Linked DNA regions of Homo sapiens: region 1 is linked to region 2. Evidence: fine-mapped expression QTL. A gene starts in region 2. The other region holds a variant in brackets. All regions are shown on one strand. Distances are between the middles of the regions.

Region 1 (9,126 bases), 64 kb after region 2:
AGATCACCGGCTACAATTGGAGAATAAAGTCCAATGAAGGCTTCCGAATGGGGCTTGGGGAATAATCCAACTTAGACTCATAAATGAAGTATCATCTCTTGTGGCAGATATAAAATATACCCAAGTAAAAATCCAACCGACACAGCTCATCAAACTCACTGGTTGTGGGATGCAATGGTAGCTTCATTTCCTAAGGGAGTGATGAAATCCAAAAAGGAAAAAAAAGCTAAAAATTGACGTAGGATCTTTAGGTCATTAATTCATTTTGTTTATTAATTATCCCACTAAAAGGTAAGCACCACTGAGTACAGGGATCTTGTCTTTTATGCCAGTGTGAACCCAGAACATGGAACAACCACCACCATAGGAGATGCTCAAAAAAATTTGTGAATGAATGCAAATCTGTTGGGAGTTTCAAGACTTCTAAGGAATACAAGGTATCCCAGGTACTTTTTAGGGTTTAACAATCTGTAAACAATCCCCATAGCAGCTTCTCCATATAACACAAGATATCATAAATCTTAAGTATACATAGGTGTACCAAAACGAATTAAGAAAGCACTACTGGGTGGGGAGCTAGGGGAGGGATAGCATTAGGAGAAATACCTAATGTAGATGATGGGTTGATGGGTGCAGCAAACCACCATGGCACGCGTATCACTATGTAACAAACCTGTGCACATTCTGCACATGTATCTCAGAACTTAAAGTATAATGAAACAAAAAAAAGAAAGAAAAGAAAACACTACTGCCTGGGTATGGTGGCTCATGCCTGTAATCCCAAGACCCTGGGAGGCCAAGGTGGGTAGATCTCCTGAGGTTGGGAGTTTGAGACCAGCCTGGCCAAGATGGAGAAACCCCATCTCTACTAAAAATACAAAAAATTAGCCAGGCGTGGTGGTGCATGCCTGTAATCCCAGTTACTCAGGAGGCTGAGGCAGGAGAATCACTTGAACCTGGAGGCGGAGGTTGTGGTAGGCATAGATTGTGCCACTGCACTCCAGCCTGGGCAAGAAGAGCGAAACTCCGTCTCAAAAAAAACAAAACAAAATGAAACAAAAAACATATAGGAGGATTTTAGAAGGGACAGTTTTTTTGTTTTATCAAAAATCTTGGAGCCACCCTACTTTTCTTTTTTTTCTTATTTTGGCAGGTGAGTTGTTACACACTCAGTGGATTCCAACTTCTGTGGCCACCATCGTGTTTCCAATCCTACTTTTAAGGAGACAAAAAGTTATGATGATCAAACCTATGTTATAGATAACATGGTACTTACAATATCTTGAGCCTTGAAATACTTGGGGTACCTAATCCAGACCTAGATGTGTGGGAAATCACTGACCTTGCTTAAAAGATCAGCTCCACAAATTTGGGAGTATGGAGAGGGGTCATGGTAATGGTGTCTACAAGTTTAGTTTGAAGTCTCACTGAACTTATTCTATCTGGAATTTTAAGTCATTTAACTAGCCGGGCTCACGCCTGTAATCCCAGCACTTTGGGAGGCCAATCCGGGTGGATCACGAGGTCAGGAGTTCAAGACCAGCCTGACCAACATGGTGAAACCTGGTCTCTACTAAAAATACAAAAATTAGCCAGGCGTGGTGGCGGGTGCCTGCAATCCTAGCTACTCAGGAGGCTGATGGAGGAGAATCACTTGAACCTGGGAGGTGGAGGTTGCAGCAAGCCAAGATCACGCCTGGGTGACAGAGCAAGACTCTGTCTCAAAAAAAAAAAAAAAGTCATTTAACTAAATACAGTAATCAAAACCGGTGTTTATAAATGCTACAAGTTTGGCCTCTAAAGGTGAACCCTGATTCGGACCTGGATTATCTGCCTTTAGCACTCTGCTGCACCCTTGGCTACCAGATTTGACCAGACCAGCACAGCCTAGAGCAAACTGCGCTAATTCTAACCCAGGTCAGAAGCCTATTTACAGTTAACATGATCATATTCTTTTAAGAGTTCCAAGAAGAGATATAGTCAACCCTTTAAGGACATTTAACTCCACCCCTAAGGCAGAAAATTTGACCTTTAAAAAAACAGTTTCTTCTTCCTGCTCAGTAATTAAGGTTTTTAGAGTCAGGTTTCTTTGTAAATTTGATGAAATAAATTACCATACTCCCCAGGAAAAAAGCAAATATACACAAATATTTTCATGCAATGGAGAAGTCAGAAAATTCAGGATTTATTAAGCATCTACTATGGGCTTGGTGCTTCATCTATTTACTTATGAGAATACAGTAAACAACACACACTGTCCTCATCGAGCTTTCATGTAGCATGAAGGATTATAGGAAATAGACAAGATTCCTTCTTTCAATTTTACATAAATAAAAAATAGGCCGGGTGCAGTGGCTGACACCTGTAATCCCAATACTTTGGGAGGCTGAGGCGGGCAGATCACGAGGTCAGGAGTTCGAGACCAGCCTGGCCAACATGGTGAAACCCCATCTCTACTAAAAATACAAAAATTAGCTGGGTGTGGTGGCGGGCACCAGTAATCCCAGGTACTCAGGAGGCTGATGCAGGAGGATCGCTTGAACCCGGGAGGCAGAGGCTGCAGTGAGCTGAGATCACGCCATGGCACTCCAGCCTGGGCAAGAGAGCGAGACTGTCTCAAAAAAAAGAAAAAATAACTCATGCGCAGTGGCTCACGCCTATAATCCCACCACTTCGGAGGTTCAAGACCAGCCTGGCCAACGTGGCGAATTCCCATGTGTACTAAAAATACAAAAAAATTATCCGGGTGTGGTGACATACGCCTGTAGTCCCAGCTACTGGAGAGGCTGAGACAGGAGAATCGCTTGAACCCAGGAGGCAGAGGTTGCAGCAAGCTGAGATCGCGCCACTGCACTCCAGCCTAGGCGACAAAGCAAGACTCCATCTCAAAAAAAAAAAATCATTTTGATCTAGATTCCAAGGAACTATAGCTTTATCTTTATACTAGCTTTTCCTATGGAAGCCTTAGTCTTCAATATATTATGACAAGGAGGGAAGAAAGGGAACAAGAGGGAGAGAATTAGCACTGTGGCCACTAAGAGTATATGGAGGGCATTTTACTTTTCCACTGCATCAAGCTTTTCCTATATTGAAAGAAGCAGAAGAAGCAGTGAACAGAAGAAGCAGTGAAAAAGGTTTAAAAAAACCCTTTGGTTCTGTAAGAATATTGTATGATTTCTTAAACTTCTCCATAGATACTAATTTTGTCATCTCTATTTACCCTTTGGCATTAGCAGAACCACAAAATGAAGAAGAAATACCCACTCGTCTTAGTGCATATTAGGTTAAGAATAAAATGAAAAGACACTTTCAAGGAAATGGAAACATCCAACGAAAAACTTTTTTTTTTGAGACCGAGTTTCACTCTTGTTGCCCAGGCTGGAGTACAATGGCATGATCTCGGCTTGCTGCAACCTCTGGGTTCAAGCGATTCTCCTGTCTCAGGCTCCCAAGTTGCTGAGATTACAGGCATGCACCACCTCGCCCGGCTAATTTTGAATTTTAGTAGAGACAGGGTTTCTCCATGTTGGTCAGGCTGGTCTCAAACTCCCAACCTCAGGTGATCTCAAACTCCCAACCTCAGGTGATCTGCCCGCCTCGGCCTCCCAAAGTGCTGGGATTACAGGCGTGAGCCGGCCAGGAAAAAATTTTATTGCTCATCTCAGAAGATTCATAAGACAGTGAGTGTGCTTTAGTAAGAGAATTTTCCTAGCACAGTACTTCAGAAAAAAAAGGACTTAGTTCTCTAAACTATGTGCAAATTAAAACTGCAGCCTTAAACTTCCTTCTCTGAAAAATCTATCGGCAATATGATTACTAAATGCAAGGATTCTGATTTGTTAGTTATAGGCTTATAAACTGCTACTATATTCCCCTGAGAGTCTTTTGCATGACAAAATTCTTAATACCTACAGACTTGAAGGTATGGCACTTAAAAAAAAAAAAAAAGTTTCCCAGGACTGATTACACTTTGAAAACTGATGTGGGTTCACGACTTCCACAACAATTTTTTCCCATAAACTCTGATACATCTACTTGGTGCCAAACACCGTTAGGCATTGAGGCTCCTAAATGTAAGCAAAAGGGGTCCTGGCCAGGCGCGGTAGCTCATGCCTGTAATCCCAGCACTTTGGGAGGCCGAGGTGGGCAGATTACGAGGTCAGGAGATCAAGACCATCCTGGCTAATACAGTGAAACCCCATCTCTAATAAAAAATAGAAAAAATTAGCCAGGCGTGGTGGCGGGCGCCTGTAAGTCCCAGCTTCTCGGGAGGCTGGGGCAGGAGAATGGCA[T/C]GAACCCAGGAGGTGGAGCTTGCAGTGAGCGGAGACCATGCCACTGCACTCCAGCCTGGGCAACAGAGCGAGACTTCGTCTCAAAAAAAAAAAAAAAAAAAAAGAAAGAAAAGAAAAAGCGGTCTTCCATTTGACACAATTTTGTTTATTTATTTAATATTTTTAGAGACAGGGTCTTTTGCTCTCTCACCCAGGATGGAGCACAGTGGCATGATCATAGCTCACTGCAGCCTCGACCCCTTGGGCTCAAATGATTCTCCCACATCAGCCTCCCTAAGTAGCTAGGAGCACATGTGTGCCCCACCACACCTGGCAATTTTTTTTTTTTTTTGAGACAGTCTCGCTCTGTTGCCCAGGCAGCAATGGTGTGATCTCGCCTCACCATAACCTCCACCTCCCGGGTTCAAGAAATTCTCCTGCCTCAGCCTCCTAGTAGTTGGGATTACAGGCATATGCCAGCACGCCCCACTAATTTTGTATTTTTAGTAGAGACAGGGTTTTGCCACGTTGGCCAGGCTGGTCTGGAACTCCTGACCGCAGGTGATATGCCCACCTCGGCCTTCCAAAGTGCTGGGATTACAGGCATGAGCAACCATGCCCAGACAGCCTGGCTTATTTTTTAAGAAAAAATTTTTTAGAGATAAGGTCTATGTTGCCCAGGCTGGTCTTGAACTCCTGGGATCAAGCGATCCTCCCACCTCAGCCTCCCAAAGTGCTGGGGGCTACAGGTGTGAGCCACCACACCTGGCGTGTATTTGTGTTTATTAATATTAAAATTTTTTGAGATGGAGTCTCACTCTGTCACCCAGGCTGGAGTGCAGTGGCACAATCTTGGCTCACTGCAACCTCCGCCTGCCGGGTTCAAGCGATTCTCCTGCCTCTGCCTCCTGAGTAGCTGGGACTACAGGCGCACCCCACTAGGCCCAGACAATCTTTTTTTTTTTATTTTTTTGAGAGGGAGTCTCGCTCTGCCGCCCAGGGTCGCTCGGCCTCCCGGGTTCACGCCATTCTCCTGCCTCAGCCTCCCGAGTAGCTGGGACTACAGGCGCCCGCCACCATGCCCGGCTAATTTTTTGTATTTTTAATAGAGATGGGGTTTCACCATGCTGGCCAGGCTCGTCTCGAACTCCTGACCTCAGGTGATCCGCCCTCCTCAGCCTCCCAAAGTGCTGGTATTACAGACGTGAGCCACCATGCCCGGCCCCAGCCTGTATCTCACAAATGTTAACACACACATTAGTGGGAGACCAATCATTACAATCCATTATGATAGAGGGGACTTCCCCAAAATGAAGATTAACAGTACATACAGGCCTGGCGCGTTGGCTCATGCCTGTAATCCCAGCACTTTGGGAGGCCCAGGTGGGAAGATCACCTGAGGTCAGGAGTTCAAGACCAGCCAGGCCAATATGGTGAGACCCTGCCTCTACTAAAAAAAATACAAAAATTAGCCGGGCTTGGGGCGCGAGTCTGTAATCCCAGCTTCTAGGGAGGCTGAGGCAGGAGAATCACTTGAACCCGGGGCGGAGGTTGCAGTGAGCCGAGATCGCGCCCTTGCACTCCAGCCTGGGCGACAGAGTGAGACTCCGTCTCAAAAAAAAAAAAAAGAAAAAAAGAAAAAAACACAGTTCATAAAGTGAACGACCTTGTCAAAACACTGGTTGGAAGCAGGTCTCTTCCCTCCGCACTGTTTCCTATCATATAGCCTTAAGCATTTCCCTCAGGGTTAAAAAAAAAAAAAGTGACAAGGCTGGTTTGTTTTTTTTTTTTCTTTTTCCAGAGGGAGTCTCGCCCTGTCGCCCATGCTGGAGTGCAAAGGCGCGATCTCGGCTAACTGCAACCTCCGCCTCCGGGTTCAGCTTCCCGAGTAGCTGGGATTACAGGCGCGCGCCACCACGTCCGGCTAATTTTCTATTTTTAGTAGAGACCGGGGTTTCACCATTTTGGCCAGGCTAGTCTCGGACTCCTGACCTCAGGTGATCCGGCCGCCTCGGCCTCCCAAAATACTGGGATTACAGGCGTGAGCCACTGCCCCTGGCCACAAGGCTGTTTTCAATCCTTGCACAGATCTCTGTCCGACTAGGCACAGTGAATACCCTTGGAAAACAGGGAATGCTGAGGTGGGAGGCAAAGAGCCAGGGCGTTCAAGAAGGCAGCGCGCAGGCAAGCGGGCAGTGCCCAAGACCCGAGCAAAAGTCACATGAGCTGCGGGGCAAATCTCCGTCCTCAGGCCGACCTCTTGGATCTGGTGACTTGGAGCAAGGGACCTTCCTGCGGCATCTGGGCGGCTCAAGGCCCGCGGCCTTCCCTAGGCGGGCTCCAGCCCACTCCCCGGGACTGCCGCCGCGGCTTCGTAAGACCCAACCAAGCCCCTCACCTGCTTTTGCACGTCAGCATCGCTGAGAGCCATGGCGAGAGCAATGCTAGGCCGGTGAACAGTAGGCTCGAGTTTAGGTTTGAAAGGTGAGGTGAGAGAAATCGGCAAAGGGAACCCCTGCGCAGATCTCGGGTTCCTTTACTTTATAACCGCGGGTTCCGGTTCCTGCCAGGTGACTGCACAGTTCATCCTCATGACCCTTCTCAGCCAATGGGAAGAGAGCGACGCCCAGGAAGTCCCGCCCTGTCCCGGCCTGTGGGCGCGTCCTCGGGTCCTTCTACGTCGCTGACTCGTGACCTGACCGGTATTTTTTTCCTAAACTGGGATCTTGGGTAGGAGGAAGAAAAGATAAGGAGTTCCTCTATCTGAAATTAGTCGGGCTGTTTTGAGGAGTACTGGTTAGGTATATTGGAGAATGTGCCTTTATTGGAATTTTTCGCATAATTACACAGGGTTATGGGCTTAGGGGTACATGATTGTTGGCCGGGCGTGGTGGCTCACGCCTGCAATCCGGAGACTTTGGGAGACCAAGGCGGGTGTATCGCTTGACCTCAAGTTCGAGACCAGGCTGGACAACATAGAGGAACCCCGTCTCTACCAAAAGAAAAAAAAAAGGGGGATACATGATTTCTGACTATTCATGTCAACCTTGATTACCTGAATAAAGTGTAGGGTTTGTAGGTTTCTCCACTCTGAAGTTACCTTTTTTAACCCCCTTTCCATACTGTAGTCTTAGGAAGGAAGCCACTATACAAAGCCCACACCTAGGGAGTGGGAAGCTATGCTCAACTTCCTTATTAGGGTGGAGCAGCTACATAATTTATTTGGAACTTTTCTGAGATAGCCTATATATTTTTCAAAAGCCTTCCCAGGTCCCATTTAGAGGAATATTAGGACAGAAATCCCCCCAGGCTCATTTGTTTTTATTTGGATTTACCTCAAGCCCGTTTTTTTCCCCAAAATCCCAAAGGCAAAAACTTTTGAAAATTCCTTTATCTTTAGGATAGACTGACTCCTAATAGTAGAATAAGAGGTCAAATGGTACACCCACTTTTTTCTTTTTACTGTGCTATGGTTACCCACCATTTTTATTAGCTTTTTATCTTGAAGAAATTTGAGATATAGTAACTTGTAAGAATACTGCATTGACCTCCCTTCACCTAGATTCAACAATTGTTAACATTTTGCTACATGTACATTAACACTTTATTTTCATACACACACACACACACACACACACACACACTTCCTATTTTAGTGTGTCATAAGAACGAGGATGTAGCAAATTCAGGAAATTTAGTTTACTAGGCTGAACATTAATTTCCTTTGTCCCGGGCCAGGCGCGGTGTCTCACGCCTGTAATCCCACCACTTTGGGAGGCTGAGGTGGGCAGATCACCTGAGGTCGGGATTTCGAGACCAGCCTGACCAACATGGAGAAACCCCAGTCTCTACTAAAAATACAAAATTAACAGGCGTGGTGGTGTGTGCCTGTAATCCCAGCCACTGGAGAGGCTGAGGCAGGAGAATTGCTTCAACCCAGGAGCAGAGGTTGCGGTGAGCCAAGATCGTGCCACTGCACTCCAGCCTGGGCAATAAGAGTGAGACTCCGTCTCAAAAAAACAAAAAAAAAAAAAACAAATTCCTTTGTCCCATCAATCCATCAATGTACTTTATAACCCTTTCTTTTTTTTTTGAGACAGAGTCTCACTCTGTCGCCCAGGCTGCAGTGCAACGGCATGGTGTCAGCTCACTACAACCTCTGCCTCCCGGGATCAAGTGATTCTCCTCCCTCAGCCTCCCAAGCAGCTGGGATTACAGGTGCCTGCCACCATGCATGGCTAATTTTTGTATTTTTAGTAGAGATGAGGTTTCACTGTGTTGGCCAGGCTGGTCTTGAACTGCTGACCTCGTGATCCACCTGCCTCGGCCTCCGAGAGTGCTGGGATTACAGGTGTGAGCCACTGCACCCGGCCTTCTTTTTCTTTTCTTTTTTTTTTTTTTTTTGAGATGGAGTCTCGCTCTGTTGCCCAGGCTAGAGTGCAGTGGCAGAATCTCGGCTCACCACAACCTCCGCCTCCCGGGTTCAATTGATTCTCCTGCCTCAGCCTCCCCAGTAGCTGAGATTACAGGCATCTGCCACCACGCCCAGCTAATTTTTGCATTTTTAGTAGAGATGGGGTTTCAACACATTGGCCAGGGTGGTCTTGAACTCCCGACCTCAGGTGATCTGCCTGCCTCCACCTCCCAAAGTGCTGGGATTACAGACGTGAGCCACCGCGCCCAGCCATAACCTTTTTTTAATAACCTTACTTTTTAACCTTTTATAACCTTCTTATAACCTTACTTTATAACCTTTATAACCTGGATTGGATCCAGGGTCACTTACTGCATTAGTGATCATGTCTTTTTAGTCTCCTTTAATATGGAAGAGTTTCCTCAGACTTATCTTTCTTGA
Region 2 (9,178 bases):
CCCCTCGTCCATTCTCATGCATCCAGAATCCACGGAGGCGGGGCACGGGTCCTGTGCATGAGACAGAGGAATATGGTTCCAGAGAACTTCAAAACAGTCATGTACTGACTGGCAGTTCTAAACCATGTCAGGGATAAAACGCTCCTCACAGCCGATCCTTGCGAAGCTGGCCCGGCCGTCAGCATCTCACTGGTAAAGGCGTCCGCCTTCAGAAGGTTACTACACCTGAGGTGCACGACTTCTCTCCTTGCAGGCTTTAGGGTGCCTGGGATGGGAAAGGAGTATAACAGTGGGGCAGCGGGGCAGCTCCAGCCTGGAGCCCGCTGTGCACACACATGGCCAGAAGTGGGAGCTCCAGCCTAAGCAAGCGGGCAATCTTATACCTGCCAAGGTCATTTATGTTTTATTTCCAGTTACTGGGAGAACAGTTTGAAAGTAGCTTCATTCAGCCAGGCGCGGTGGTTCACGTCTGTAATCCCAGCACTTTGGGAGGCTGAGGCGGGCGGATCACGAGGTCAGGAGATCGAGACCATCCTGGCTAACACGGTGAAACCCCGTCTCTACTAAAAATACAAAAAATTAGCCGCGCGTGGCGGCACACACCTGTAGCCCCAGCTACTCGGGAGGCTGAGGCGGGAGAATGGCGTGAACCCGGGAGGCGGAGCTTGCAGTGAGCCGAGATCGCACCACTGCATTCCAGCCTGGGTGACAGAGTGAGACTGTGTCCCAAAAAAAGAAAGTAGCTACATTCTTAGAAATCAGCTACAGTCTTAAGACACCAGAACTCCTGTTTTGTCCTTAAATGCAGACTGTCCCAGTTTAATGATCATTCAACTTAGGAGTTTTTGAAAATGAGACACATTCTGCAGAAACTGTACTTGAAGTCCTCGTGCAACAATTCTCTTTCACCTTCTGTACGGTATTCAATAAACTCCATGACATATTCAACACTGTGTGATAAAGGAGGCTCAGCCAGGTGTGCTGGCTCACACCTGTAATCCCAGCACTCTGGGAGGCCAAGGCAAGTAGATCATATGAGCTCAGGAGTTCGAGACCAGCCTGGCCAACATGGCAAAAGCCTGCCTCTACTAAAAACACAAAAATTAGCGGGGCGTGGTGGCGGGTGCCTGTAATCCTGGCTACTTGGGAGGCTGAGGCAGGACAATCGCTGGAAGCTGGGATGCGGAGGTTGCAGTGAGCCAAGATCGCGCCACTGCATTCCAGCCTGAGCGACAGGAAGACTCCGTCTCAAAAATAAAAATAAAAAAGGAGGCTCAACTGTGGGCTAGCATAAGTTTGCTGAGCATGCTTGAGGCAGGCTAAGCTGTGATATTTGGTGGGTTAGGTGGATTCAGTGCATTTCCAGCTGACAATATTTTCAACTCATGATGGGTTTATCCGGAGGTGACCCCACTGGAAGCTGAGGAGCATCTGTAATTGGCTGTGGAAGTAATCCTCATTCCATAAAAATTTCACCACAATTAGTACCCGTTTCCAAACCCATGCTTGGGGCTGTCCCTTTCTAGGCAGTGATCTGTTCACTCTCCTTTTAACCTCCAGTTGTTTGGTGTCTGATTGTCCCCACTGATACTCTGTTGTTACTGGCTAACAAATTTTTGAGCCTTTTATCCTGGTATTATTTTAAAACTGTTCAGTTATTCTCCCATGAAAAGTGTTTCTATGATAAAACATTTTATGCCAACCGTACTTTCTTGTTTAGTAGTTGCATTTCAGTGTAATTTCTGAAACAAAACAAAAATCAACTTTAAAGTGAAAAATCAGGCTGGGCACGGTGGCTCACTTGATGTCAGGAGTTTGAGATCAGCCTGGCCAGCATGGTGAAACCGTCTCTACCAAAAATACAAAAATTAGCCGGGCATGGTGGCACACGCTTGTGATCTCAGCTACTTAGGAAGCTGAAGCAGGAGAATTGCTTAAACCCTGCAGGCAGAGGTTGCAGTGAGCAGAGATCGCACCACTGCACTCCAGCCTGGGCAAGAGTGTGAGATCCTGTCTTAAAAAATCACTAGTAAACCCCAGATCAGACATGATGCTACTCAAATTGTGCATCTCGATGGATTCTCCCAGTGGGTGGGGGGAGCACCACTCTGGCCTGGCTTCCTTCACTGTTCTGTCAGCTTTCCTAGAGCCCAGTCCAGCTGCATCAGTGGCTGGGATGGCGTTAGCAAACCCACTCCCTGTGCATATCAGCAGCACACCCTTAAAATGCATGCAAACTTTGATTCCTAACTTTCAGATTTCCTCCTACCGTGACATGAATTCTCACCAAACAAAGGCCAGAATGTTTTTTGACATATTTAGCTATTGATAGGCTTTAGCTCTCCCTCTCCCTCTCCCTCTCCCTCTCCTCACGGTCTCCCTCTCTTTCCACGGTCTCCCTCTCATGCGGAGCCGAAGCTGGACTGTACTGCTGCCATCTCGGCTCACTGCAACCTCCCTGCCTGATTCTCCTGCCTCAGCCTGCCGAGTGCCTGCGATTGCAGGCACGCGCCGCCACGCCTGACTGGTTTTGGTGGAGACGGGGTTTCGCTGTGTTGGCCGGGCTGGTCTCCAGCTCCTAACCGCGAGTGATCCGCCAGCCTCGGCCTCCCGAAGTGCCGGGATTGCAGACGGAGTCTCGTTCACTCAGTGCTCAATGGTGCCCAGGCTGGAGTGCAGTGGCGTGATCTCGGCTCGCTACAACCTCCACCTCCCAGCCGCTTGCCTTGGCCTCCCAAAGTGCTGAGATTGCAGCCTCTGCCCGGCTGCCACCCCGTCTGGGAAGTGAGGAGCGTCTCTGCCTGGCCGCCCATCGTCTGGGATGTGAGGAGCCCCTCTGCCTGGCTGCCCAGTCTGGAAAGTGAGGAGCGTCTCCGCCCGGCCGCCATCCCATCTAGGAAGTGAGGAGCGTCTCTGCCCGGCCGCCCATCGTCTGAGATGTGGGGAGCGCCTCTGCCCCGCCGCCCCGTCTGGGATGTGAGGAGCGCCTCTGCCCGGCCGCGACCCCGTCTGGGAGGTGAGGAGCGTCTCTGCCCAGCCGGCCCGTCTGAGAAGTGAGGAGACCCTCTGCCTGGCAACCACCCCGTCTGAGAAGTGAGGAGCCCCTCCGCCCGGCAGCCACCCCGTCCGGGAGGGAGGTGGGGGGTCAGCCCCCCGCCCGGCCAGCCACCCCGTCCGGGAGGTGAGGGGCGCCTCTGCCCGGCCGCCCCTACTGGGAAGTGAGGAGCCCCTCTGCCCGGCCACCACCCCGTCTGGGAGGTGTGCCCAACAGCTCATTGAGAACGGGCCATGATGACAGTGGCAGTTTTGTGGAATAGAAAGGCGGGAAAGGTGGGGAAAAGATTGAGAAATCGGATGGTTGCCGTGTCTGTGTAGAAAGAAGTAGACATGGGAGACTTTTCATTTTGTTCTGCACTAAGAAAAATTCTTCTGCCTTGGGATCCTGTTGATCGGTGACCTTACCCCCAACCCTGTGCTCTCTGAAACATGTGCTGTGTCCACTCAGGGTTAAATGGATTAAGGGCGGTGCAAGATGTGCTTTGTTAAACAGACGCTTGAAGGCAGCATGCTCGTTAAGTGTCATCACCACTCCCTAATCTCAAGTACCCAGGGACACAAACACTGCGGAAGGCCGCAGGGTCCTCTGCCTAGGAAAACCAGAGACCTTTGTTCACTTGTTTATCTGCTGACCTTCCCTCCACTATTGTCCCATGACCCTGCCAAATCCCCCTCTGTGAGAAACACCCAAGAATTATCAATAAAAAAATAAATTAAAAAAAAAAAAAGAATAACAAGAAACATCTATTCTCTGTTTTCCATACCCTAAGCTTGGTTCTAAGCACCTTATGTTCATTGACTTATTAAATTCTCACAACATGAAAAAAAAAAAAAAAGATAGGCTTTAATTTTTCTTGAGACAGGGTTTCACTCTGTTGCCCAGGCTAGGTACAGTGGCATGGTCTCAGCTCACTGCAGCCTCAATCTCCCGGGCTCAAGCAGTCCTCTCACCACAGCCTCCCAAGCAGCTGGGACTACAGGGGCACCCCACCACACCCAGCTAATTTTTTGTCTCACGATGTTGCCCAGGCTGGTCTAGAACTGAGCTCAAGTGATCTGTCTGCCTCAGCCTCCCGAAGTGCTAGGAATTACAGGCGTGAGCCACTGTGCCCGGCCTTTATTTTTTATAAGGAACTTAGCCATTTAGAGTGCTTCCAGATTTATCTTCTTCGGGCCAAAACCAGCAACAAATATATGTACCAAAAGTTAGCATCTTCCACTGGTTAACTGTTTCAAAACAGTGCAGTAGGCAGTGTAAATGTGGCTCTATTTTTGGAACTGTTACTGTTTAACGCTTGTTAAGCATCCTGGGTAAATATATCTTACACAGATAATCCTACACAGTGAGCTTCTTAAAATAAGAGCATAAAAGCTACTCGGGCAAGATTTAGGGAGACAGGAAGCTATACATTGTTACTGTAGATTAGTCTCAAAAGTTCTGATCAACTTTCTATTTTGACATTTGGAGACATCCATAGGTGCTTCTCTTGTTAAAGATTAATGTCTCTTGTCTCTAAACCAATTCGTGTTACTGGAAGGAAAGGCAACGCAAGTTTTATAAATCAGCCCCTTTGTGGGCTCCATTTTGCTATACTCTATGTTCTCTGAGAGTGCTACCAACGGAATTGAGAAAATAACCATCCAGACGGGCTATTTGGGGGCTGATCTTTACCCTGGAATCTTCCTGGAAGGTGAACGGCCTATGTCATGCAGTTGTTATGCAAGAGGTATCATGGGACCTTTCCTTCTGGGCGCTCATGGAGCCGCGGCAGAGCCCTGGGTGACCCAGCAGCAGCTGCCTGCTGTGTGGCTGCCTTCACTGTCCTCCCCCACAACTGCTGTTGATTTCTCTGCATTGACCCTGCAGATGTTTCCCTGGCCTCGTGGTGTTCCTTTGGACTTTTAAGGGACCTCTGTGCATCTATTTTAGTCCCCTTTCTGCTAGCAATGCTCACTCCCCTAGTTTCCTTAAGCAGTTTTATAAAAAACCTTCAGTGAAAAATACTAGCCAAGAAGGCGAAGGCATCTGGAAAATCCCCAGATTTGGCTATTGTGTGCTGCAATGCCAGCCCCCTTCTACAGCCATGACATGCATATCAATGCAGGTGCCCTTGAGACTCCTGCAGGTTCGAGAAAGCATGACATGCTCCCAGAATCCTGGATTTGGACTTCATTCTGGACAGCATATGACAAGGACGAGGACCCCTATTCTAGCCAGTTAAAGCTGGACAGAATTTTTAAAAGCAATGAAGCCAGTTCCTTGGATATATCCACGGGCTTTGCTTTGAGAAGGAACTGAGTAGGCAGTGAGAAGAGTCGAGTGAAGCCTGGCCCGTGAGTGCCTCAACAACTGAGATGAACGTCGACTCGCTTGCAGGCAAGTTGTCAGTAAGTATTTATTAAATACCCACCGTGAGCCTTGTACTTTGCCTAGTTACTAAGAAACCAAAAGGGGGAAAAATAGCCTCATCTGCTCAGAGTTCATAATAAACCTGTATTGTGAATACAGAATACAGAAAAACTGGACTCTAGTGAGGTGCTAGAAAGAGTGTACTGCTTAGCTGAGATAGCAGATGAAGGAAAAATATTTTTGGTTCCTCCCTGCCATGCAATCGTACCGGGAGGGTGGAGTGTTGGTGTTCTCAGCCCATTTAATTTGGATGGAGCTGCGGGCTCATCAGTTTGGGGACTGGCTTCATCGCTTGTTCTGTCCAGCAGTCGCGTCTTCTCGGACTCCTTGTTCCAGCTTGAATTCCTCTTTTGCCCTGGCTCCACTCTAAGACGAAGACTGTGTAATTCAGAAAATGCAGCGCAAGTAATTATGTCCAGTGTGATGCTAAACATTTCCCAAAGGCAGCGTAGATCTGCAGAAACTGCAGCTTGGGAGAAGTGATGGTGTTCCTCTCCCCACCACCTCAGCCTGCCCTGATCATTCTCACTCACATGATCTATTGTGATGTTCTCACAATGTAGCCTGGCCATCATCTGGGAACTTGCTGGAAATGCAGATTTTGGCATCCCGCCTAAGACCTTAAACTGAAGAAGGGCCTAGCTCTCTCTTGTAACTAGCAACAGATGCAACCTGCATGGTTCTGATGCAAACTGACCTGGAAGAATGGCCCTGGCATTTACATTTTGGTCCTTAGATGCAGGTAATCTGAGCTGAACATCTTCAAACCTGAGGCATAGCATAGAAAAAAGAATACAAACAGTTTATATAAAGTAAAAAAAATTTTTAGAAAGGACTTAAGTTGGCTGGGGCGCGGTGGCTCACACCTGTAATCCCAGCACTTTGGGAGGCCAAGGCGGGCGGATCACGAGGTCAAGAGATGGAGACCATCCTGGCTAACGTGAAACCCCATCTATACTAAAAATACAAAAAATTAGCCAGGCGTGGTAGCAGGTGTGGTAGTCCCAGCTACTCGGGAGGCTGAGGCAGGAAACTCACTTGAACCTGGGAGATGGACGTTGTAGTGAGCCAAGATTGAGCCAGTGCACTCCAGCCTGGGGGACAGAGCAAGACTCTGTCTCCAAAAAAAAAAAATCAGGCCCAGGCAACATAATGAGGCCCCACCTCTACAAAAAAATAATTGTTTTAATTAGCCAGGTTGATGGTGTGCACCTGTGATCCCAGCTACTCAGGAGGGTGAGGTGGGTGGATCGCTTGAGCCCAGGAGCCCTCCCTCGGGATGCTCTTATTTCTGCCTGCAGCCTCATTTGTCACTCTGTGCAGACTCATTCTGTTTTTGTTTTGTTTTGTTTTGTTTTGTTTTTGAGACAGTCTTGCTCTGTCACCCAGGCTGGAGTACAGTGGCACAATCTCGGTTCACTGTAAACTCCGCCCCCCCGGGTTCACGCCATTCTCCTGCCTCAGCCTCCCGAGTAGCTGGGACTACAGGTGCCTGCCACTATACCCAGCTAATTTTTTGTATTTTTTAGTAGAGACGGGGTTTTGCCATGTTGGCCAGGATGGTCTCGATCTCCTGACCTCGTGATCCACCCACCTCGGGCTCCCAAAGTGCTGGGATTACAGGCGTGAGCCACCACGCCCTGCCAAATTTTCTATTTTTTAATAGAGATAGGGTCTTGCCAAGTTGAAGTGCAGTGGTATGATCATAGCTCACTGCAGCCTCCAACCCCAGGGCTCAAATGATCCTCCTTCCTCGACCTCCCAAGTAGCTAGAACTACAGACACACACCGCAGCGCCTGGCTAATTTTTTGTTTGGGGTTTTTTTGAGTAATTTTTTAAAAAAATTTTTGGACAGGTGTGTTGGCTCACGCCTGTAATACCAGCACTTTGGGAGGCCGAGGCAGGCAGATCACCTGAGGTGGGGAGTTCAAGACCAGCCTGACAAACATGGAGAAACCCCGTCTCTACTAAAAACACAAAATTAGCCGGGCATGATGGGGCATGCCTGTAATCCCAGCTTCTCCGGAGGCTGAGGCAGGAGAATCACTTGAACCCAGGAGGTAGAGGTTTCAGTGAGCCGAGATCGTGCCATTGCACTCCAGCCTGGGCAACAAGAGTGAAGCTCCGTCTCAAAAAATAAAGAGATGGGGTCTTGGATGTTTCCCAGGCTGGTCTCAAACTCCCAGGCTCTAGTGATCCTCCCACCTCAGCCTCCCAAAGCACAAGGATTACAGGCGTGAGCCACCGCACCTGGCCTCTGTGTTTACTTTTTTGAGGACCTGCCATACTGTCTTCCACCATGGCTGCCGTGTTTTACATTCTCACCAGCAAGGGTTCCAATTCTCTACATCCGCACCAATGCCGATCTCTATTTTTTTGAACCATGCTTGTGGGTGTGACACGGCACTGCACCGCTGTTTCTGGTGCCTGCTGTCACCCCCTCATCTGCAACTGCTACTTTAAGCTCATGTCAGCTGCCAAACTTCTCTTCCCTCCCCGTCTCCTTACCTACCCCCTGCTTCTAACACTCTCAGTGGGGGGATAATGTATCTTCCTCCTGCTGATGCGTGTTTCAAATCTGATACCTGCCTCTGGCGTGTTTAATCACCCACCAAGCCCTGTATAATCTTCACAGAAACCATTCACATCTCTTCCCTCCTGTGAGCAGGCTGTCATTTTCTTTTTTTTTTTTCCAACTGGAGCCTCGCTCTTGTTGCCCAAGCTGGAGTGCAATGGCGCAATCTCGGCTCACTACAACCTCCGCCTCACGGGTTCAAGCGGTTCTCCCGCTTAAGCCTTCCAAATAGCTGGGATTACAGGCATGTGCCACCATGCCCAGTTAATTTTGTATTTTTAGTAGAGACGGGGTTTCTCCACGTTGGTCAGGCTGGTCTCGAACTCCCAACCTCAGGTGATCCGCCCACCTCAGCCTCCCAAAGTGCTGGGATTACAGGCCCGAGCCACCGTGCCTGGCCCAGCCTGTCATTTTCTCTTTTGCCTAGCTTACTGTGTAATCTCCCTGACTTGTCCAAACCACTTGGCACTGCCAGAGACCTGAACTGTCCCGTCGGGTCCCTACTCCATAGCATCCTCTATCAGCTTTCCATTGCCCACCAGAAAAGGTGGGAAGAAAATTAGCATGGGCCGGCCGTGATGGCTCACACCTGTAATCTCAGCACTTTGATAGGCTGAGGCAGGCAGATGGCTTGAGGTCAGGAGTTGTACACCTGCCTAGGGCAACATGGCAAAACCGCGTCTCTACAAAGAAATAACAAAAATTAGCCAGGCATAGTGGCATGCCTGTAATCGCAGCTACTTGGGAGGCTGAGGTGAGAGGATGGCTTGAGCTCAGAAGGTCAAGGCTGCAGTGAGCCATGATCACGACACTGCGCTCCAGCCTGGGCGACAGAGCAAGACACTGTCTCAAAAATAATGTATATTTTACAAAGAATTAGCATGTGAATACCTTTTATGTGCCAGGCACTGTACTAAGTGCACTACATCTAGATATGAGTCCCATCTCATAGATGAACAGGCAACACAGACAACTTAAGTAACTTGTTTAAGGTCACACAGCTAGTAAGCAGTAAACTAAGATTCAAACTGTTTCAAAAGCAATCCTATTTTCAAGTCCACTCTACAGCCTCATTTCAGATTAATTACAATCCTGTTACATGGATGTCCCATTCCCCTTTTATGAAAAAAGCACT

Which allele goes with the higher level. Alleles are on the strand shown, and positions count from the first base shown. SD is a standard deviation of normalised expression in the study named.
With allele C in place of T in region 1, the expression in fibroblasts of the gene that starts at base 5,230 in region 2 is higher (small effect, 0.34 SD a copy in GTEx).

The links. PIP is the estimated chance that this variant, and not a neighbour inherited with it, causes the effect.
Region 1: its variant is fine-mapped to the expression of SLC25A18 in fibroblasts (GTEx, PIP 0.92).

The regions. Positions count from the first base shown.
Region 1 is chr22:17,621,934-17,631,059 of GRCh38, forward strand. It overlaps ATP6V1E1 (ATPase H+ transporting V1 subunit E1), which reads right to left and starts at 6,816. Exons shown (of 9, transcript NM_001696.4): 1 at 6,670-6,816. The coding sequence starts at 6,702. It also overlaps a transcript of BCL2L13 not described here. RefSeq lists enhancers at 6,511-6,660, 6,741-6,830, 6,772-6,941. The variant T/C (reference allele first, on the strand shown) is at 4,293.
Region 2 is chr22:17,558,269-17,567,446 of GRCh38, forward strand. SLC25A18 (solute carrier family 25 member 18) reads left to right here and starts at 5,230. Exons shown (of 11, transcript NM_031481.3): 1 at 5,230-5,445. LOC105372850 (a long non-coding RNA gene) reads right to left here. Exons shown (of 3, transcript XR_001755420.2): 2 at 6,001-6,235; 3 at 5,429-5,845. RefSeq lists a silencer at 5,001-5,295.